2 linked regions of the Homo sapiens genome follow. The protein of the gene in region 2 interacts with the protein of the main gene of each other region in a biochemical or structural test. Each region holds a gene or a part of one and is shown on either strand. Other genes may lie near its edges.

Region 1 (3,812 bases), on a different chromosome or scaffold from region 2:
AACTGCTGAAAGAAGCCAGACACAAAAGGATAGATATTATTTGATTCCATTTATATGAAGTCTTAGGAAAGGCAAAACTAACCTACAAAGGTAGAAACCAGAACACTGGTTGCCTAGGGTGAGGATGGAGGTGGGGAAGGAGCAAGAGGAGTTGTGCGTTGATGGAAGTATTCTATATCTCCACAGGGGCAATGTGGTTACAGGGGTGCGCACATTTGTCAAAGTTCATCAAGCTGTACATTTAAAATACGTGCAATTTGGCCGGGCATGGTGGCTTATGCCTGTAATCCCAGCACTTTGGAAGGCCAAGGCAGGAGGAGCATCTGAGGTCAGGAGTTCGAGACCAGCCTGGCCAACATAGTGAAACCCCATCACTATTAAAAATACAAAAATTAGCCAGGTGGTGGCGTGCACCTGTAACCCCAATTACTAAGGAGACTGAGGCATGAGAACTGCTTGAACCTGGGAGGCAGAGGTTGCAGTGAGCTGAGATCACGCCACTGCACTCCAGGGTGACAGGAGGAAACTCTGCCTCAAATAAATAAATAAATAAATAAAAAAGGTGCAATTTACTATACGTAAGCAAAATGTCAATGACAGTGATTTTTCTAAAAAGCAGTTATTCTGGGGAACAGTACTGGACAAGGTAAGGCAGGAGGTCAGTAATTACATTAAACACCTCTTTCTTTCTTCTTTCTAAATGAAATAGAGACAGGATCTTGCTATGTTGCCCAGCCTGGTATCAAACTCTTTCTTGGCCTCAAGGGATCCTCCTGCATTAGCCTCCCCAAGTGCTGAGAGTACACATGTGAGCCACCATGCCCGGCCATGAACACCTTTCTGTTCCGTTTGATTTTAAAACCACGTGCATGTATGAGGGGGATTCAAAAAGTACACGAAAAATGTGCATTATGAAAAAACTATGCATGCATTTCAAAAATTTTTTTTGCACTAAAATAAACTCATACTAACTTGTTATAACATGTCTGAACAAGACCTAGTTTGAGGTACTAAGAAGGATAAGACATCAGTTTGAAAAGAGCCCCTATCAGAGCAACATGAATTCTGCTAAAATGGAAACAACAACAAACAACAAATTCAAGGGGAAGGTTGGGTGGAAGAAGGATGAGATCACTTATGAAAGAAAAGTATATGGGGACGATGCTCCAAAGAAATCAGCTGTTTACAAATGTAACTCATTTTAAGGGACAAGGCCAGGCACAGTGGCTCATGCCTATAATCCCAAAGACTTGGGAGGCAAGGCAGGAGAACTGTTTGGAGACCAAGAGTTAGAGACCAGCTTAGGCAAGATGGCGAAACCCCATCTCTACACAAAATTAAAAAAAAAAAAAATTAGCTGGGCATGGTGGCATGCACCTGTACTCCCAGCTACTGGAGAGGTTGAGGTGGAAGGATCACTTGAGCCCAGGAGTTGGAGGTTGCAGTGAGCTATGATCATGCCACTGCACTCCAGCCTGAGAGACAAAGAACAAGACTCTGTCATTTAAAAAAAATTACGGCCAGGTGCAATGGCTCAAGTCTGTAATCCCAGGACTTGGGGAAGCCGAGGCGGCAGATCACTTGAGGCCAGGGGTTCAAGACCAGCCTGGACAACATGACGAAACCTCATCTCTACTAAAAATACAAAAATTAGCTGGGCGTGGTGGCGCACGTCTGTAATCGAGAGACAGAGGCAAAAGAATCACTTGAACCTGGGAGGTGAAGGTTGCAGTGAGCTGAGATTGTGCTTCTGCACCCCAGCCTGGGCAACAGAGTGAGACCCTTTAAAAAAAAAATCCCTAGTAAGTATATAAAGCAACAAATGTAATACTCAAGGGCACATGTGTTCAAATCTTCACCCCATGGACACATTATTCAACCTCTCTGTACTTCCTTCCTCTGTAAAATGGGAGTATAATAGCTATCTTCTAGGGTTACTTAAGTACTGACTACTAAAGCATCTGTCACATTAGAAATAGTCAAAAACATTAGTTCCCTTCCCCTTTCGTTATATAATTAAGATACAAATGCTATGTATTCTGTTGACCACAAGAGTTCTATGCATCATCTCTTATTTTATCATGTGACTCTTGCCCAAACGCCTTCACATGTGTGTGGTATTTGCGTACCCTTTGTGGCCTGTGTCTTTTGAACGAAAATGATACCTGCTTTAGCTGATAATGAAAGTCAGCAAAGGTTCTCCAACTCATTCCATCACCACAAACACATGTGAAACTTTCATTCTTCATTTATGAACAAAATACTTCACCTACGCTGGAAATAGGTTTATAAAATTTTGAATATAAAAACATGGCCAGGTGCAGTGGCTCACATCTATAATCACAGCACTTTGGGAAGCTGAGGCGAGAGGATCGCTTAAGCCCAGGAGTTTGAGACTAGCATGGGCAACAGAGTGAGACCCCATCTCTAAAAAATAAAAAAACTTATCAAATTATTTAAATATCTCCATGATCATTCTTTATTTTTTTTTGAGACAGTCTCACTCTGTCGCCCAGTCTGGAATGCACTGGTGCAATCTCGGCTCACTGCAACCTCTGCCTCACGGGTTCAAGCAATTATCCTGCCTCAGGCTCTCAAGCAGCAGGGATTACAGGCACACGCCAACACACCCAGCTAATTTTGTATTTTTAGTAGACCAGGGTTTCCCCATGTTGGCCAGGCTGATCTCGAACTCCTGACCTCAAGTGATCCACCTGCCTTGGCCTCCTAAAGTGCTTAGATTACAGGCATGAGCCACTGCGCCTGGCCCATGATCAGTCTTTTTAAAAGTGAAGAACCATTCTTTTCTTTTTTTCTTTTGAGATGGAGTTTTGCTCTTGTTGCTGGAGTGCAATGGTGCGATCTTGGCTTACCGGAACCTCTATCTCCCGGGTTCAAGAGATTCTCCTGCCTCAGCCTCCCAAGTAGCTGGGATTCCAGGCATGCGCCCCCACACCTGGCTAATTTTGTATTTCTAATAGAGACAGAGTTTCTCCATGTTGGCCAAGCTGGTCTCAAACTCCCAATCTCAGGTGATCTGCCTGCCTTGGCTTCCCAAAATGCTGGGATTACAGGCGTGAGCCACTGCGCCTGGCCTAGAAACATTCTTAATTTGTCTTAAAGACACAAGGTAGCAGCTATAAAGTAAATGAAAGCTACAATTTAAAATCACTTCCCCGGTTTCAGCATTCACACATTCCTAATTTATTTAAATATTCACTTGAGTCCAACAATAGTTCTTCCTGTTCCTGTTTTTCCCCCAAGCTGCCTTTCTTCCCCATTCACCTGTCCCTTTCTTCCCACTGCCTCATTCATTCATGCAACTAGCAAGCATTTATTCAGCACCTAAAACTTGCCAGCACTTCTCCAGGTATTGGGGATACAATGCAGAGTAAAATAACCCAGACATGATTGCAGGCCTCATGGAATTTACACAAAGTATTAGGCCAGGCACAGTGGCTCAAGCCTGTGATCCCAGCATACTGGGAGGCCAAGGTGGGTGGATCTCGAGGCCAGGAGTTCAAGACCAGCCTGGCCTACATGGCGAAACCCTGTCTCTACTAAAAATACAAAAATTAGCAGGGTGTGGTGGTGGGCACCTGTAATCCCAGCTTCTAGGGAGGCTAAGACAGGAGAATCGCTTGAACCCGGGAGGCAGAGGTTGCAGTGAGCCGAGAATGTGCCACTGCACTCCAGCATGGGCAACAGAGCAAGACTCTGTCTCAAAACAAACAAACAAACAAACACAATAATTTTAAAATTTTAAAAAGAAACTGATAAATCAACAAACATAAAACTGCAATTATTAATAG
Region 2 (3,812 bases):
TCTCTCCTCCACCTAAAATGAGTCAGCAGCCTAGGGCTCACACCCTGACTGACCCAGCAGGCCCTGCTGACCTTTCCAGCTAAACCAACTGCTCACAGCTCCTTGAGCACTGCAGCCTGCACTGGGCTCCACCTTTGCTCACACTACTCTTGGGACTGGAAAGAACATCGCTACGGTTGATTCCCCTCCCAAACCTGAAGAAAAGGATTCATTTCTAGGACGAAGATTACCAGCTGCTTCCTCCAAACAGCCTTTCCTGATCCGTCTCCCAATTAGAACTGATAGCTCCCATGGATGGGTGTGGTGGCTCACGCCTGTAATCCCAGCACTTTGGGAGGCCAAGATGGGCAGATCACTTGAGGTCAGGAGTTCGAGACCAGCCTAGTCAACATGGTGAAACCCTGTCTCTACTAAAAATACAAAAATTAGTTGGGTGTGGTAGCAGGCACCTGTAATCCCAGCTACTTGGGAGACTGAGGCAGGAGAATCGCTTTAATCCAGTTGTGGGAGATTGCAGTGAGCCGAGATCGGGCCACTGCACTCTAGCTTGGGTGACAGTGAGACTGTCTCAAAAAAAAAAAAAAAAAAAAAAAAGAACTGATGGCTCCACAATTCATATCCCACAAAACTCAGTACAGGCATTTCACACACCTGTGACACTGGAGAGTCCTCATCATTTTTTTCCTTTCCCTCTACCCTGCACCCCACAATGGAAGGTCTCCAGGTCAAGAACTATTCCTCCCTCCAGTGAAGCCTGGAGTGGAGAATGTTCACCCAGACATTCGTTAGTTAACTGACTAAAAACCTATGGACTCAGGCCTGGGGAGACACGGTTGGGAGAGGCCTAGGAGACTTACCATACAGGTCCCTGGCTGTTGGCCCTGATACACACGGAAAACCTAGACAAGAAGACAGGGAGGTGAGGGCTGGCACTTTTTGCAAAAGAGATAAACCGGTGTTCTGCCCTTAACTTCATGTCCCAGTACTTTTGTTTAAAATATGCTTTTTTGGCCAGGCATGGTGGCTCACGCCTATAATCCCAGCATTTTGGGAGGCCAAGTCGGGTGGATCACTTGAGGCCAGGAGTTTGAGACCAGCCTGGCCAACATGGTGAAACCCCATCTCTAAAAATACAAAAAATCATGGCTGGGTGTGGTAGCTCACACCTGTAATCCCAGCATTCTGGGAGGCTGAGGCGGGCGGATCACTTGAGGTCAAGAGTTGGAGACCAGCCTGGCCAGCATGGTGAAACCTCATCTCTACTAAAAATACAAAAATTAGCCAGGCATGGTGGCGGGCGCCTGTAATCCGAGCTACTCAGGAAGCTGAGGCAGGAGAATCACTTGAACCCGGGAGATGGAGGTTGCAGTCAACCGAGATAGCGCCATTGCACTCCAGCCTGGGCAACAGAGCGATTCTCCGTCTCAAAAAAAAATGCTTTTTTTCCTGTTTACACAGTAATATATTCATGTAGAACATGTAGGAAACACAAGGAAGTACAACAAAGACAACAAAGGTAGTGCCTTTTTCATGGCGGTGGAAACAGCTGCGGTGTGAAATTCCTCCTGCGTCAGCCAGCGAGCACCTGGTGGTACGGTGGTCACTGGGGTCTGCCCTTCCAAGGCCAGCCCATATACTTGATATGTCAGCTTGATGTGAGAGAAGGTGTGGACAACCTGGAGGAAGGGTCAAGGGGTTCAAATAGGCCTGTGGATATAGCCTCAAAAGCCAACATCCTTGGCTATTCCGCTGCTCACTTACCTCCCCAAGGTGCCGGAGGTGCGTGGCTGGGAGGGGCCCAGCCCAACGCTGTAGTTCCTGCAGCAGGGCCTTGCGCTGAAGCTGCTCTGAGGGCTCCCAGGTCACGGACGGGAACTCCCACAGTCCTGCCAGCAGACCTGAGAGGGAGGGCAGCCAGGCAGGGGTCAGGCCTCAGCTGCCGATTCCCTCCATTCTCTCTTGTTACTCATGCCACTGCCCTCCACGCCCAGTATCCAGGTACCTGAGTTGGGCCTCTGCACCAGCAGAATTTGGGCCCCAAGGGCCCCAGGCTGTTCCAGAACACAGGTGGCAGAGCTCTCCTCCCTGGGGGGCTTGCGGCTGGCCTTTCTGGGGAAGTTGACCACTCCCAGGGTCTGGTCCCAGGGCTCCGAGGGAGGCAGGCACAGGTGGCACTGTCCAGTGTTGGGAGCTGGGAACGGAGATCCCCGAACCCTACTCAAGCCAAGAGGGCTTTAGGGGCCAACCTAGAGAGTGGGCTTTGGCCGGGTTCTGCAGAATCTTACTCAGGTTAGAGGAAGAACTGGAATGGGGCTTCTGACTGGGCCAGGAAGGGTTGGGGTGGGGGCTAGGTTTGGTGCTCACCACACTCCTCCACGTCAGGACTGCCCGACAGGCTCCCTGAGGCTAAGAGCTGTTCCTGCTCCACCTGAGAGGCACAGGGTTGAGTGTCATAGGGCAGAGTCACTCCTTAGGACTTCTCACTGCCCCTTCCCCAGTAGGCTTACTCTCTGGCGTGCCCGGCACAGGCTCTCCACAGGGCACTGGCTGCACAGTGGGCGCTGTGGGGTACACACTGTGGCCCCTAGCTCCATGGCTGCTTGGTTGAAATCTCCTGGCCGGGCTGGGTCCACCAGCTGCTGGGCTAGACCCCTAAAAGAAGGGAACACTGCTGTGAAGCAGAGCTCCTTTGCAGACACCCCTGAAGCACCCTTGTTACCCCAACATCCTACCAGAGCTGCTGGGAAACAAGGGTGCTGCTGGGATCAGCACCAATGGCTCGGACACGGCACAGCACCCGTGCTACGTTGCCATCCACCACACCGGTTGCCTGGCACAGAGGGGCCAAAGAGTTAGCCTGGGCTGGGAGGAAGGAGGCTGGGCACGCACAAAGTGGGGGTGGGCTGTGAGATCACCTGGCCAAAGGCGATAGAGGCAATGGCCCCAGCTGTGTAGCGCCCCACGCCAGGCAGGAGCTGCTGCAGGGTCTCTGCTGTACGTGGCATGTGGCCCCCTAGCTCCTCTACCACCTGATTGGAGTGCAAGACTCAAGATTATAAGACACCCAAGACTCCTGGGTTCCTACCCTCCTGCCATCCCCTTACCTTCCGAGCTCCCTCCTGCAGCCGCCGGCCACGAGAATAGTAGCCCAGGCCAGCCCAGAGTTGATTCACCTCCTGTGGGTAGGATCAGAGGTCAAAGAGATCACCCGTCAGTCCCTCTATTGTTCCTATTTCCCCTACCCTAGGGTGGCTCTCACCTCCAGGGAAGCACTGGCCAGGTCCTGCAGTGTAGGCCACTTCTATAGCCACAGGCAGGCAGAAAGAGACAAGGTCAAGGGTGAAGGTGGTAGAGGAAGCCTTCTCTACACCCACCCCAAAGTAGAGGCTCTCATCTGGGGTCTGACCCATGACCCTTCCCTTCCTCCCCTGGAGTCACCTGCATCCATCCGGTATAGTAGTTGATCACAGTGGCAACCTGGGTCTGCTGCAGCATGACCTCTGAGACCCACACTGGGGGAAAGGGGTTGGCATGAGGACACTGCTGACCTGCCCCTACCTGGCCCACAGCCCCCAGACCCAAGGGCCTCGAGGCAAAGTGGCCCTGCTCTCAGGAGATGTACTGACCAGCATATGCCCGCCTGTCCAGGTCCATCTCATCTTCTGCCTGTCAATGCAACCCCAGATGAGGAGTTAGGGTGGAGGGGGCTGGGTGCCTGCCTCCCACCCACTGTCCCTGCTCCTCGCCTGCCTACCCGTCTTCTCCATGGTAGGTCCCGTTTCTCTTGGTCGTACCAGCTTAGCAGGCTCCCT

The links.
Region 1: the proteins of MUTYH (region 2) and RPA1 form a complex in vitro, tested with the Homo sapiens proteins (one study listed by BioGRID).

The regions. Positions count from the first base shown.
Region 1 is NC_000017.11:1,832,857-1,836,668, reverse strand, and holds part of RPA1 (replication protein A 70 kDa DNA-binding subunit), read right to left. Parts: intron 1-3,812. UniProt on the Homo sapiens protein: As part of the heterotrimeric replication protein A complex (RPA/RP-A), binds and stabilizes single-stranded DNA intermediates that form during DNA replication or upon DNA stress.
Region 2 is NC_000001.11:45,329,659-45,333,470, forward strand, and holds part of MUTYH (adenine DNA glycosylase), read right to left. Parts: coding exon 3,755-3,812; intron 3,667-3,754; coding exon 3,627-3,666; intron 3,513-3,626; coding exon 3,439-3,512; intron 3,302-3,438; coding exon 3,260-3,301; intron 3,177-3,259; coding exon 3,105-3,176; intron 3,030-3,104; coding exon 2,916-3,029; intron 2,831-2,915; coding exon 2,733-2,830; intron 2,653-2,732; coding exon 2,508-2,652; intron 2,429-2,507; coding exon 2,365-2,428; intron 2,192-2,364; coding exon 2,003-2,191; intron 1,899-2,002; coding exon 1,762-1,898; intron 1,677-1,761; coding exon 1,524-1,676; intron 900-1,523; coding exon 858-899; intron 411-857; coding exon of another isoform or gene 408-410; exon of another isoform or gene 231-407; intron 1-230. UniProt on the Homo sapiens protein: Involved in oxidative DNA damage repair. Initiates repair of A*oxoG to C*G by removing the inappropriately paired adenine base from the DNA backbone. Possesses both adenine and 2-OH-A DNA glycosylase activities.